Linked DNA regions of Homo sapiens. The protein of the gene in region 1 interacts with the protein of each later gene in a pairwise test. Each region holds a gene or a part of one and is shown in the gene's direction. Other genes may lie near its edges.

Region 1 (2,392 bases):
AGACTGGGTAATTTATAAGGAAAAAGAGGTTTAATGGACTCACAGTTCCACATGGCTGGGGAGACCTCACAATCATGGCAGAAGGTGAAAGGCACGTCTCACATGGCGGCAGACAAGAAAAGAGAATGAGTGAAGCAAAAGGGGTTTCCTCTTACAAAACCATCAGATCTCGTGATACTACAAGAACAGTATGGGGGAACTGCCCCCATGACTAAAGTTATCTACCGCTGAGTCCCTCCCACAACATGTGGGAATTATGGGAGCTACAATTCAAGATGAGATTTGGGTGGAGACACAGCCAAACCATATCACATAGCAACAAATTTAAATAACTTAAATTTGAAGCATTTTACTACAAATTAATGATAATTGCTTTGTTTGGGATGATTTTGGTCCCTAAGGAATAAACTCTTAATTGTGATCAGTTATTCACTATATATACTAGGAAATGAATTACTCAGAAAACTTCATTTTAAAAATACCTTGTTCTCTTTTAAATGACAAGCAGTATGGTAACAATTTGGAGGTTAATGCCTAGAATGTTAAATAATATGTACAGGTGTCTCTATGTAAACTTAAAATACATTTTTCTCTTGACAGGAAATGCACAATTTTGAGGAAGAGTTAACTTGTCCCATATGTTATAGTATTTTTGAAGATCCTCGTGTACTGCCATGCTCTCATACATTTTGTAGAAATTGTTTGGAAAACATTCTTCAGGCATCTGGTAACTTTTATATATGGAGACCTTTACGAATTCCACTCAAGTGCCCTAATTGCAGAAGTATTACTGAAATTGCTCCAACTGGCATTGAATCTTTACCTGTTAATTTTGCACTAAGGGCTATTATTGAAAAGTACCAGCAAGAAGACCATCCAGATATTGTCACCTGCCCTGAACATTACAGGCAACCATTAAATGTTTACTGTCTATTAGATAAAAAATTAGTTTGTGGTCATTGCCTTACCATAGGTCAACATCATGGTCATCCTATAGATGACCTTCAAAGTGCCTATTTGAAAGAAAAGGACACTCCTCAAAAACTGCTTGAACAGTTGACTGACACACACTGGACAGATCTTACCCATCTTATTGAAAAGCTGAAAGAACAAAAATCTCATTCTGAGAAAATGATCCAAGGCGATAAGGAAGCTGTTCTCCAGTATTTTAAGGAGCTTAATGATACATTAGAACAGAAAAAAAAAAGTTTCCTAACGGCTCTCTGTGATGTTGGCAATCTAATTAATCAAGAATATACTCCACAAATTGAAAGAATGAAGGAAATACGAGAGCAGCAGCTTGAATTAATGGCACTGACAATATCTTTACAAGAAGAGTCTCCACTTAAATTTCTTGAAAAAGTTGATGATGTACGCCAGCATGTACAGATCTTGAAACAAAGACCACTTCCTGAGGTTCAACCCGTTGAAATTTATCCTCGAGTAAGCAAAATATTGAAAGAAGAATGGAGCAGAACAGAAATTGGACAAATTAAGAACGTTCTCATTCCCAAAATGAAAATTTCTCCAAAAAGGATGTCATGTTCCTGGCCTGGTAAGGATGAAAAGGAAGTTGAATTTTTAAAAATTTTAAACATTGTTGTAGTTACATTAATTTCAGTAATACTGATGTCGATACTCTTTTTCAACCAACACATCATAACCTTTTTAAGTGAAATCACTTTAATATGGTTTTCTGAAGCCTCTCTATCTGTTTACCAAAGTTTATCTAACAGTCTGCATAAGGTAAAGAATATACTGTGTCACATTTTCTATTTGTTGAAGGAATTTGTGTGGAAAATAGTTTCCCATTGAAAATGTCAACCTGAATTGTTTAAATGGGCTTATTCTGTACATTGCTAAACAAAAAATGGGGTAGCATGGATAAAGAGCAAACTAAGCTTTATTAGTGCTGCAACTAATATAAACAAATGTTTATATTTGTTGCTTCTTTTGGTTAGCAATGATATGTCAAAGTTATATCTGAAATAGTCAAATCTTTGGGAAACAGAATCTAGTAACAATTTGAAAAGTAATACACTATCCCATTTTTATTGGCTTTATGATGGTTGACATAATGTTGCTGTGACATTTAAACATTCTTGTACCAATATTGTCTTTTACCATTATTATATACTGCAGTTAATTGGCTTTACAGTTCTTTATATATATAGCAAAATCCTGAAAGAACATATACCTTTATTTTGATGTGGCTTGAAGCTTTTGAATGGGTGAATAAGGATGATAGAAAGGTTTCAAAATCAAGCAACAAAGTCTTAAAGTGATAAGGCATGGCTTAAAGATCTTTTGATCAAACATACCTGTGTTTGAGATAGATTTAAGAGCCCTAAATGCTTATCACCATTCACTCCAAATAAAACTATTGCTTTTG
Region 2 (3,500 bases), on another chromosome or scaffold:
AGATCAATCAGACATGGAACCTGTTCTTAGAGACCTTGCAGTCTGCTAGATAAGACATGTATATATGTATATGTGTTGGAATGGGTGGGTTGGGCAGAGTAGGAGACTTGAGAAAGTGATGACTCTAGGGAACAAGGTGAGCCAACGTTGTGCCTAACACAGTAAGCCTGGGAAGTATTTATTGTGATTCAGTGGGTAACATTAAATTGATAACATTTGGATATGCAAAAATGAAGTGAAGGAGAGGCTGGAATTTTTAGTTGAAGGAAGGAAAAGCACAGAGGCAGAAGAATTTGAGGGCCATATAGTCCAGAAATGATAACGGAGATGCAGGTTGGAGGTATATCCTAAAGTGCTCTGAATTCCAGGCTGAGAAGTTTCTTCAAAAGTTTTCAAGCTGGGAAGTAATATAATTAGAGAAATGTTTTAGGAAAATGAACCTTTCAGAAGTTTTTAAGCTCTGGACTTGGCCAGAGGGTGGGGAAAGTCAATGGAGAAAAGGATGAGTTAACACAATGAAGATCAACATGTCTTTCACAGGGGAAGACCACAAAACCCCTCTGTAGTTGCATAGTGTGCTGACATTTTTTATTTCTGAATTAGATCCATTTCTTCAACATGTGAACAAAGAACTGAAAGAAAAAGCAATTCAGGCTGTTGCCACAAATCCCAAAACTACCCACGAGCTTAAAGTAAGTGTTGCTTGGTCATCCCGGTCACAAATAGAGAAAGCTCTAAATAAAACAGTGGTCTTGGGTTTTAGTGGCCTCCCAGAATGTATGATATACACCTGCAGTAGATGGCTTGATAGGGAAGCAGGGCATAAGGAAGGCTAGAAGAGCCTAGTGGGGCACAGTTGTAGCTAGAAAACGCACCAGGAAGCTGGAGTGTGGGTGCCAGATAATATAATGATGGGTAAGAGTGGATTTGGAGACCAACATCTTCAAGGAGCTATCACATTTTGACCCAAGGCAAGTTCATCTGCTTTTTTGCTATTCACTATTCTAGTCTGCTAGAGGGGGATAATAATACCTATCTCAAAATAGAATAGTTTACTAATACATAGTGTTCAGTAAAACAGTGTTCATTAAAACAGTAGGTACTACTGTTGTTCATTTGTTTGAAATATCTGAGGTAGGTCCACAAATAAATTATCCAGATATTGGGCAGTTTTTGCTTCTTTGTTCTTACCACTGATGCCATTCATGAGAGTTGGTCATCCTTTTTTTAATTGAAATTTTTATTGAGGGAATAATTATAGATATACATGCAGTTGTAAGAAATCATACAAAGACATCTTGTACCCTTTGCCCAGTTTTCCTCAGTGGTGAAATCTTGTAGAACTGTAGTATAATGTCACAGCCAGGAAACTGACATTGATATAATCTACCAGTCTTACTCAGATCTGGTTTTACTCCTGTTCAACTGCATATGCCTGTGCCTATATTTATATACAATTTTATCATGCATAGGTTCCTGTATCTACTCCTGCCATCAAGATGCAGAACATTTCCAGCAAAATACAAATCCTTGTTGCCCTTTTATAACCATATCTGCCTCCCTCTGCACCCTGCCCCACCCCCATTTCTAACCCCTGGTAACCACTAATCTGGTCTCCATTTCTATAATTTTGTCATTTTAAAAATGTTAAATGACTCATACAGCATGTAACCTTTTGAGATTGTTTTTTTTTCACTCAGCATGATTCCCTGGAGAGTCATCCAAGTTATTTCAGCTATCAGTAATTTATTTCTTTTTATTGCTGAGGTTGTCCTATTTTTAGATCAGCAATTTAGCTATAATGCAAAAATTCTTAAACTTGTATCCCACAAAATAGAAAATAGTATTCCTTAGGATTTAAACAAAATGGACAGATTTCTTGTCATAGAACTTGTCAACACCTTTAGTATCGAGTGTACATTGTCAATCTCCCTCAGAGGAATTAAGTTTTGTGATGTTTATCAAGGGTATTTGACCATGGAACCCCTTTGTTTCTAGAATGAATGTTGACTCTTCCCAGAATATATTCCACAGAACAGTGTGGGACAACTGATAGGGTGAAGAGCTCAGATTTGAAGTCAGAAACCTTGGGGTCTAGCCCTCAGCTCCATTTTCTTCTGTGTAAACTTTGTATCATACAACCTCTGTATGAACCTCAGTGCTTCCTAAACTATAACATGAGTATCATGGTAACTACCTTGCAGGGCTGTTGTGAGGATTAAATGAGATGATCTATAAATCATGAAAAAATTCGCTAAATATAGTACTATGTGAATGTAATTTACTGTTATTCATTTCTAATTTGGCTCTTGATCTGTTTCTCCCCTAGTGGCCTATTCTGGGCCAGCTTTTCTTTTCCTCTAAGTTTCAGAAGTTGGAAACATTTAAACCCCCAAAGGATATTGACTTAAAGTCACTTCATCTCCAGAAGCCTCTGGAATCCACCTGGACTAAGACCAACAGCCAGTTCCTATCTGGTCCCCAAAAATCAAGCAGCCCATTCACCCCCCTCCAGAAAGAACTCTTCTTAATTATGAATTCTTACCGGGACCTGTTCTACCCGGAAAGGACTGCTCTGAAGAACGGGGAAGAGATCCGCCATGTGTATTGCCTGCATGTGATAAATCACATCCTCAAAGCCAATGCCCAGGTGCTTGGCAACAATAGCAGACGCCGAAGCCAGAAGTTTGGAGTGGGTGATGATGATGACTTCAGAGACCAAGGGTTAACAAGGCCCAAGGTGAGTCCAGCAGGAAAGCTTTGCTCTCGAGGAGGTGGCTGCAAGGCACTGCCATAGAGGTGCCTGACACTTAGCAGGAACTTGGGTATTTTAATAATTGACTGGCATAATGAATGAGCCCAAATGTGAGCATATTAAGTAGGCCAGGTAGTGTCAGAGCAGCACTGCAGCAGCTTAGTGGGCTGTTTCTGACAGTGGATGTAGCTGGAAACTTGCGAGAAGGAGGCACTTCATGACACTTTCCTTAAAGATAAACCCAGAGTATATAAATAAAACTCCATTATAAATCTCTTCTTTGTGGTTGTCAAAGCTGGATGGGACCTTAATGAGCCTTTTATCCAATCCCTCCATATTACAGCTGTGGACAACCCCAAATTCGTAGAAATTCATAGAGGGCCTTGCTAAAGAGAACCAGGGAAAGAATAGCAGAGATGAGACAAGAACCATAGATTCTCTTCACTAAGCCACATACATACGTCAGCCTTTGAAAGCAAAAATTTACATTTGCCACTGTAAAGTTATTGCTGCTTAAAGTGATGCGTTTGTATTCATAAGTCTAAGCTCTAGTGGATTTGAGGCCTTAACAGGAAATGGCTTTCAATTTTATCTACATTATTCATGATGTTATAGAACCAGGACTTGTCCCCCTGCCCTGAACTGCATCTCTCCGTATTGAAGAAGCCTCATCTTTTTAGAATTTTCTCATTGAGTTTAATAGGATTCTAGAAATTTGATACTAATGTGGCCTTTAGAGATTTCT
Region 3 (3,500 bases), on another chromosome or scaffold:
GCTGGGCGTGGTGGCGCTTGCCTGTAGTCCCAGCTACTTGGGAGGCTGAGGCAGGAGAATTGCTTGAACCCGGGAGGCAGAGGTTGCAGTGAGCCAAGATTGTGCCACTGCACTCCAGCCTGGCGACAGAGTGAGACTCCATCTCAAAAAAAAAAAGAGAGAAAATGAAACCCAAGGAATTTTTCCATAACATAAGTTACACGAGCCCGTCATATAAATCATTGGGAAAAAGAGGATGAGTTTCTAAAATTTCACCTTAAGGCAACTTTAAATGGCTATGTCTGTGTAAAGTATCATGCATTCTGACCTGGAAATTTATAGTTAAACCTATCAAACTAGAAAAATCTTAATGATTTAAAATTAGTAAAACTTCATTAAACTTGACTTTAAAAGTGAGATTACAGGCAAGGCACAGTGGCTCATGCCTGTAATCTCAGCACTTTGGGAGGCTGAGATGGGCAGATTGCTTGAGCCCAGGAATTGAAGACGAGCCTGGGCAACATGGCAAAACCCCATCTCTACAAAAAATACAAAAAATTAGCTGGGCGTGGTGGCACGTGCCTGTAATCTCTGCTATCTGGGAGGCTGAGGTGGGAGGATTGCCTGACCCCAGGTGGTTGGGGCTGCAGTGAGTTGTGATCATGCCACTGCACTCCAGTCTGGGTGAAAGAGTGAGACCCAGTCTCAAAAAAGTAAAAAAAAAAAAAGGGAGATTACAACTACTTGGGAGGCTGAGTTGGGAAGAATGCTTGAGCCTAGGAATTCTGAGCAATGTGTCGAGACCCCATATATTAAAAAAGTGAGATTAAAACATTAATTTATTAAATTCTTATAATCTGAGAATTTAAAAAATATAAACCTTGACAAGTGAGTCAAGGTTAAAATGCATTTTGAAATTTTCTTTTGTGGGTGGGTCCATTTTTTTTCTGAGACGGTGTTTTGCTCTGTCACCCGGGCTGGAGTGCAGTGGCGTGATCTTGGCTCACTGCAACCTCTGCCTCCTGGGTTCAAGTGATTCTCGTGCCTCAGCCTCCTGAGTAGCTGGGATTACAGGCACGTGCCACGGCGCCTGGCTAACTTTTGTACTTTTTTTAGTAGAGACAGGTTTCACCATGTTGGGCAGGCTGGTCACAAACTCCTGACCTCAAGCGATCCGCCGACCTTGGCCTCCCAAAGTGCTGGGATTACAAGTGTGAGCCACTGCCCCCGTCCTGGGTGGGTCCTTTATGTCAGCTTGTAGAAGACCTGGCTTCTTTTTTTTTTTTTTAATTTAATTTAATTTTCTTTTTTTTTTTTTTTTTTTGAGAGAAGACTTGGCTTCTTTGAAACATAGGTAATGTTTTTCATACAGTGAAGAAACTTGTATTTTAAACATTTGTTTAATATAAGAGTTCTGTTTGGTCACTAAAGTAGTATAAAACAGTAACTGTGATGATTATGTACAGTTTAACATATTCTATATTAAGATTTAGAAAAATATTCTAAGTTAATAGTCATTAAAGTAAAACAGTTTAATGATATTTAAAATTCTGGCAAAATCAAAGTAACATTATAAAATTGTTTATCTTTCAGGAAAGGTCCTCAAAGATTCAGTGTGCTTGGTTACTGGTATTCTTAGCAGGATCTTCTGTTCTTTTATATTACACCTTTCATTCTCAGTCACTTTATTACAGGTAATTAGAGGTCCAAATACACAATTACATTTTTAATGTAATCATATATTTCATAGCACTTTGTATCTTACTTCACATAGTACTTATTGTATTCAGTTCAGTTCAGTTTTTAACTTTCTCCTTTCATAAGCGAGAGCTTTTTTTTTTTTTTTCTTTTTGAGACGGAGTCTCACTCTCTCGCCCAGCCTGGAGTGCAGTGTCTTGATCTTGGCTCACTGCAACCTTTGCCTCTCAGGTTCAAGCAATTCTCCCGTCTAAGCCTCCTGAGTAGCTGGGATTACAGGCACACGCCACCACGCCTGGCAAATTTTTGTATTTTTAATAGAGACGGAGTTTCACCATGTTGGTCAGACCTCCTGACCTCGTGATCTGCCTGCCTCCACCTCCTAAAGTGCTGGGATTACAGGTGTGAGCCACTGCACCCAGCCTCATAAGTGAGAGCTTTAAGTGACTTACTCAGATTTTGTATCCCCAGTGCCTTGGCACATAACAGATGCTCAATAAATATTTAATTTTTTGATACCTGAGTTTTTGTTTACATATTTCGTATTTTTAAAGTACCATTAGGTTGTTATTATTGGTCGTTGTTTCTGAAAGTAAGAACACTTACTAAATGACAGTAGCTGATAAGTCTCCATGTCAAATGGGAGTATTCTGAATTTTCAGCTTTTATTAGAATATTAGAAGACCTGGTTTCACTGGAGTTGGAGAGATGGGCAAATCTGGGATATAGTTTGGAGGTGGAGCCAGTATCCCTCAGATGGACTGGATTGGATAGGTGGGTGGAGAGAAGCAAGAATGACCTCTGGGTTTTTAGTCTAAGCAGCTGGCTGGATGGTGGTGTCATTTCATTGGGTTGAGGAAGGAACTGATTTTGAGGAGAAAAATCAATAATTTTGTTTTGAACATGTTAAGTTTGAGAGGCTAAGTAGAATTGATAAGAAAGTGGTTCCAAATATATGTCATGAACTCAGGGTAGAGGTTAAGGCAATAAATTTTGGTATCAGGAGCATATGGTTGATATTTAAAAACCACAGGACTGGACAAAACTAACCCAGGAAAGAGAGTGTAGATAGAGAGCCCAGTACTGGACATGACCACAATTAGAAGAGAAACAGCAAAGGAGACTAAGAAGAAACCAGCAGTGAAATATGAGAAATAGAAAAGTGTTGTGTTAAAAGTCTAGAAAGAAAATTATTCAGGGAGGGAAGATGGAAAAAGAGAGTGACCTTGAAATTTAGCCATACAGAGGGAGTTGATGATCTTGACAAGCAATTCATTGAAAGGAAGAGATGGAATCCTGATTGGAATTGGTTAAGAAAAACACAGCAGATGTCTGGTATTGATGAGTTTTTTTCATTTACAGGCTAGAAAGGTGTCAACTATGACAAACCGTGAAGACTTTTTCCTTATTCTATGAAGGGAAGATCTAAAATCCAAACAGGTTTAAAAAGTCTCTTTAAGCAAAATGATCCTCCATTCCATTATTGTGAACTCTGACATCCTGCCAAACTCATATTTTTTACATATCAAAATAAAATATTTGTAGCAAATTAAAACCCTTTATTAATACTTTATCTTTGTATGTTGCTCTGATAAATTTTGATGTTTTTCTTTTGGTAGCTTAATTTTTTTAAATCCTACTTTGGACCATTTGAGCTTCTGGGAAGTATTTTGGATTGTTGGAATTACAGACTTCATTCTGAAATTCTTTTTCATGGGCTTAAAATGCCTTATTTTATTGGTGCCTTCTTTCATCATGCCTTTTAAATCTAAGGTAAGAAACTCACTTATGCTTTATTGGAGTGATGTTATCGAATCACATTA
Region 4 (3,500 bases), on another chromosome or scaffold:
TTTGAGATGGATTTTCACTCTTGTTGCCCAAGCTGGAGAGCAATGGCGTGATCTCGGCTCACTGCAACCTCCACCTCCCGGGTTCAAGCGATTCTCCTGCCTCAGCCTCCGTAGTAGCTGGGAGTACAGGCAGCTGCCACCACATACAGCTAATTTTTTGTATTTTTAGTAGAGACGGGCTCTACTAAATGTTAGCTAGGCTGGGACTTCTGACCTCAGGTGATCCACCTGCCTCAGCCTCTCAAAGTGCTGGGATTACAGGGGTGAGCTGCCGTGCCTGGCTCCAACTTTTCTTCTGCATCTTCCTCACCTCTCTCAGCCTTCATAGAATTGAAGAAAACTTGGGCCTGGTTCTCGATTAGGCTTCAGTTTAAGGGAATGTTGTGGCTGGTTTGATCTAATCAGACCACTCATACTTTCCACATATCACCAATAAGGCTGTTTCACTTTCTTTCCCTCCCTCCCTCTTTTTTTGAGACTATTGCCCAGGTTGGAGTGCAGTGGTATGATCATGGCTCACTGCAACCTCTGCCTCCTGGGTGCAAGCAATTCTCTTGCCTCAACCTCCCGAGTAGCTGGGATAACAGGTGTGCAGCATGTGTCCAGCTAATTTTTGTATTATTAGTAGAGGTAAGGTTTCACCATGTTGACCAGGCTGGTCTCGAACTCCTGACCTCAAGTGATCCGCCCGCCTTGGCCTCCCAAAGTGTTGGGATTACAGGTGTGAGCCAACGGACCTGGCCATTTTCTTATTCATGTGTTCACTGGAGTAGCACTTTTTAATTGCCTTTAAGTTTTCCTTTGTTCTGAGAGGTGATTTAAAATTTCAAAAATTTGTGTATGTATTTTTTTAATTTCAAAAATTGGAAAGAAACTTCTGCTTTGCATTTACAACTTGGCTAACTTGTTTTTTTCTTTTCTTTTCTTTTTTTTTTTTTTTTTGAGATGGAGTCGCTCTGTCGCCCAGGCTAGAGTGCAGTGGCGCGATCTTGGCTCACTGCAACCTCTGCCTCCCGGGTTCAAGTGATTCTCTTGCCTCAGCCTACCAAGTAGTTGGGACTACAGACGTGAGCCACCACGCCCGGCTAATTTTTGTATTTTTAGTAGAGACAGGGTTTCGCCGTATTGGCCAGGCTGGTCTTGAACTCCTGACCTCAAATAATCCACCCACCTTGGCCTCCCAGAGTACTGGGATTACAGGCATGAGCCACCGCACCCAGCCCTTTTTTGTTTTTTTTTAAAGAGATGAAGTCTCCCTATGTTATCCAGGCAGGTCTCAAACTCCTGGCCTCAAGTGGTCCTCCTGCCTCAGCCTCAGGCATGATCCACTGTTCCTGGCCTTGGCTATGTTTTTGAGAGACAGGGTCTCATTCTGTTGCTCAGGTTGGGATGCAGTGGTGAGATCATAGCTCACTGCACTCTTGACCTCTTGGGCTAAAGTGGTTCTCCCACCTCAGCCCCCTGAGTAACTGGGACTACAGGGATGTGCCAGCATGCCCAGCTAATTTTGAAAAAGTTTTGTAGAAGTGAGGTCTCATTATGTTGCCTCGGCTGTCTCTTAAGTTCCTTTCCAGAATGGTGAATCCTTTCAAGCCGCCTTCCTGCCTCGTCCTTCCGAAGTGTTGGGATTACCCATATGAATCACTGTTCCTGACCTGAACATCAAAGATCACTGATCACAGATCCCCGTAACAGACATAATAATGACAAAGTTTGAAATAGTGAAGAATTACCAAAATGTAACACAGACACAAAGTGAGCTCCTGTTTTTGGAAAATTGGCACCAATAGGCTTGCTTTCTTCATACAGGGTTGCCACAGATCTTCAACTTGTGAAAAACATAGTACCTGCTGAGTGCAATAAAGCAAAACACAATAAAAGGTAAAATGAGGTGCTTATAGCCAGGCGCAGTGGCTGACGCCTGTAATCCCAGCACTTTGGGAGGCCGAGGCGGGTGGATCACGAGGTCAGGAGATCGAGACCATCCTGGCTAACACTGTGAAACCCCGTCTCTACTAAATATACAAAGAATTAGCTGGGCGTAGTGGCGGGCACCTGTATTCTCAGCCACTTGGGAGGCTAAGGCAGGAGAATGGCGTGAACCCAGGGGGCGGAGCTTGCAGTGAGCCGAGATCGCGCCACTGCACTCCAGCCTGGGTGACACAGCGAGACTCCATCTCAGAAAAAAAGAAAAAAGAAAAATGAGGTGCTTATAGTCTGTTGAATCTAAAATGCAGCAGTGTGTTATACCACTACAGATGCTCCCAGTGCCTTCTGGCACGCTGCTTTCTTACCCCATCAGTGAAGGATGCTTTTCACTTCAGACATTTAAAAGTGTGCCTTAGAATTGATGAAACATGGTCAGTGAAGTATGACTTGTTTCAAAGATTAACCTTCTGCGCTTATGATCTAAGTGCCAGCAGGTTCTGTGGTAATGATACTGAGTACAATGCATTTTGTTGGGATTCCTGTACTCTATATGTAGTTAACGTTTCTCTGGCAGTAACTTTAGAAAAGTACTACTTGTGAGGCCAGGTGCGGTGGCTCACACCTGTAATCCTAGCGCTTTGGGAGGCCGAGGTGGGTGGATTGCCTGAGGTCAGGAGTTTGAGACCAGCCTGGCCAAGATGGGGCAACCCCTGTCTCTACTAAAAATGCAAAATTAGCTGGGTGTGGTGGCAGGAGCCTGTATCCCCAGCTACTCGGGAGGCTGAGGCAGGAGAATCACTTGAACCAGGAGGTGGAGGTTGCAGTGAGCTGAGATCGCTCCAGTGCACTTCAGGCTGGGCGACAGAGCAAGACTCCATGTCCGAAAAAAGAGAAAAAAAAATACTACTTGTAAATAGCAGAAATAGAAAGGTGCTACTTATGAGAAGTAACATCCTATTTGCGGCTTACACTTTTGTTGCAAATTGTTAAAAGTGTCTGAAACTGTTTAGAAGGACAGCCTGAAACTGCTAAAGTGATGCAAAGTATAGACTCTGGTGGGAGAGGGGGCGTCTTAAATTTTCACGTTTGCTTGGCCTCTGGGGGCCTCTTAACAGCACTTTAAAGGAAATAAATAGATGAAGAAGAGAACAAATTATTTTGAAATACAGTTATTAAAATACTGTATTGAACCAAATTGGTGATAGTCCCATTTATTAGCTTAGTAACCGGATTGAGCTGTGGCTCTGGTAATTCATTTGGGAGTAGTGACGAGATTTTTTGTGACACTCTAATGCTTTGGAAAATACCTGTTGCTGTTCCTGCTAAAACTCCAGGGCTTATTGTCTGCCTTTGTAATTGAAGGAGTGCTACATTTCAGCTAGAAGTTTTTGCCTTTTATCATTCATGTTCACAAATACCAAGTTGATTTACTCTCAGCCTATCCATTTGTAGGAATATATGGTGTCCTTTCTTTACTTCCTCAAATGATTATATTGATGACAAAAGAGACAAGGAAATAAAAACGGCACAGATAGGGGAACCCAAAGCCTAACAGTGTGTGTCCTTGGAGG

Evidence for each region. Proteins that work in one complex are often made in the same cells at the same time.
Region 2: the proteins of TRIM59 (region 1) and UTP25 interact in a two-hybrid assay, tested with the Homo sapiens proteins (one large-scale study listed by BioGRID).
Region 3: the proteins of TRIM59 (region 1) and RNFT1 interact in a two-hybrid assay, tested with the Homo sapiens proteins (one large-scale study listed by BioGRID).
Region 4: the proteins of TRIM59 (region 1) and PKNOX1 interact in a two-hybrid assay, tested with the Homo sapiens proteins (one large-scale study listed by BioGRID and IntAct).

Annotation. Positions count from the first base shown.
Region 1 is NC_000003.12:160,437,395-160,439,786, reverse strand, and holds part of TRIM59 (tripartite motif-containing protein 59), read left to right. Parts: intron 1-600; 5' UTR 601-603; coding exon 604-1,815; 3' UTR 1,816-2,392. UniProt on the Homo sapiens protein: E3 ubiquitin ligase involved in different processes such as development and immune response. Serves as a negative regulator for innate immune signaling pathways by suppressing RLR-induced activation of IRF3/7 and NF-kappa-B via interaction with adapter ECSIT.
Region 2 is NC_000001.11:209,834,472-209,837,971, forward strand, and holds part of UTP25 (U3 small nucleolar RNA-associated protein 25 homolog), read left to right. Parts: intron 1-603; coding exon 604-692; intron 693-2,329; coding exon 2,330-2,740; intron 2,741-3,500. UniProt on the Homo sapiens protein: Component of the ribosomal small subunit processome for the biogenesis of ribosomes, functions in pre-ribosomal RNA (pre-rRNA) processing. Essential for embryonic development in part through the regulation of p53 pathway.
Region 3 is NC_000017.11:59,958,241-59,961,740, reverse strand, and holds part of RNFT1 (E3 ubiquitin-protein ligase RNFT1), read left to right. Parts: intron 1-1,572; coding exon 1,573-1,673; intron 1,674-3,296; coding exon 3,297-3,450; intron 3,451-3,500. UniProt on the Homo sapiens protein: E3 ubiquitin-protein ligase that acts in the endoplasmic reticulum (ER)-associated degradation (ERAD) pathway, which targets misfolded proteins that accumulate in the endoplasmic reticulum (ER) for ubiquitination and subsequent proteasome-mediated degradation.
Region 4 is NC_000021.9:42,977,562-42,981,061, forward strand, and holds part of PKNOX1 (homeobox protein PKNOX1), read left to right. Parts: intron 1-3,500. UniProt on the Homo sapiens protein: Activates transcription in the presence of PBX1A and HOXA1.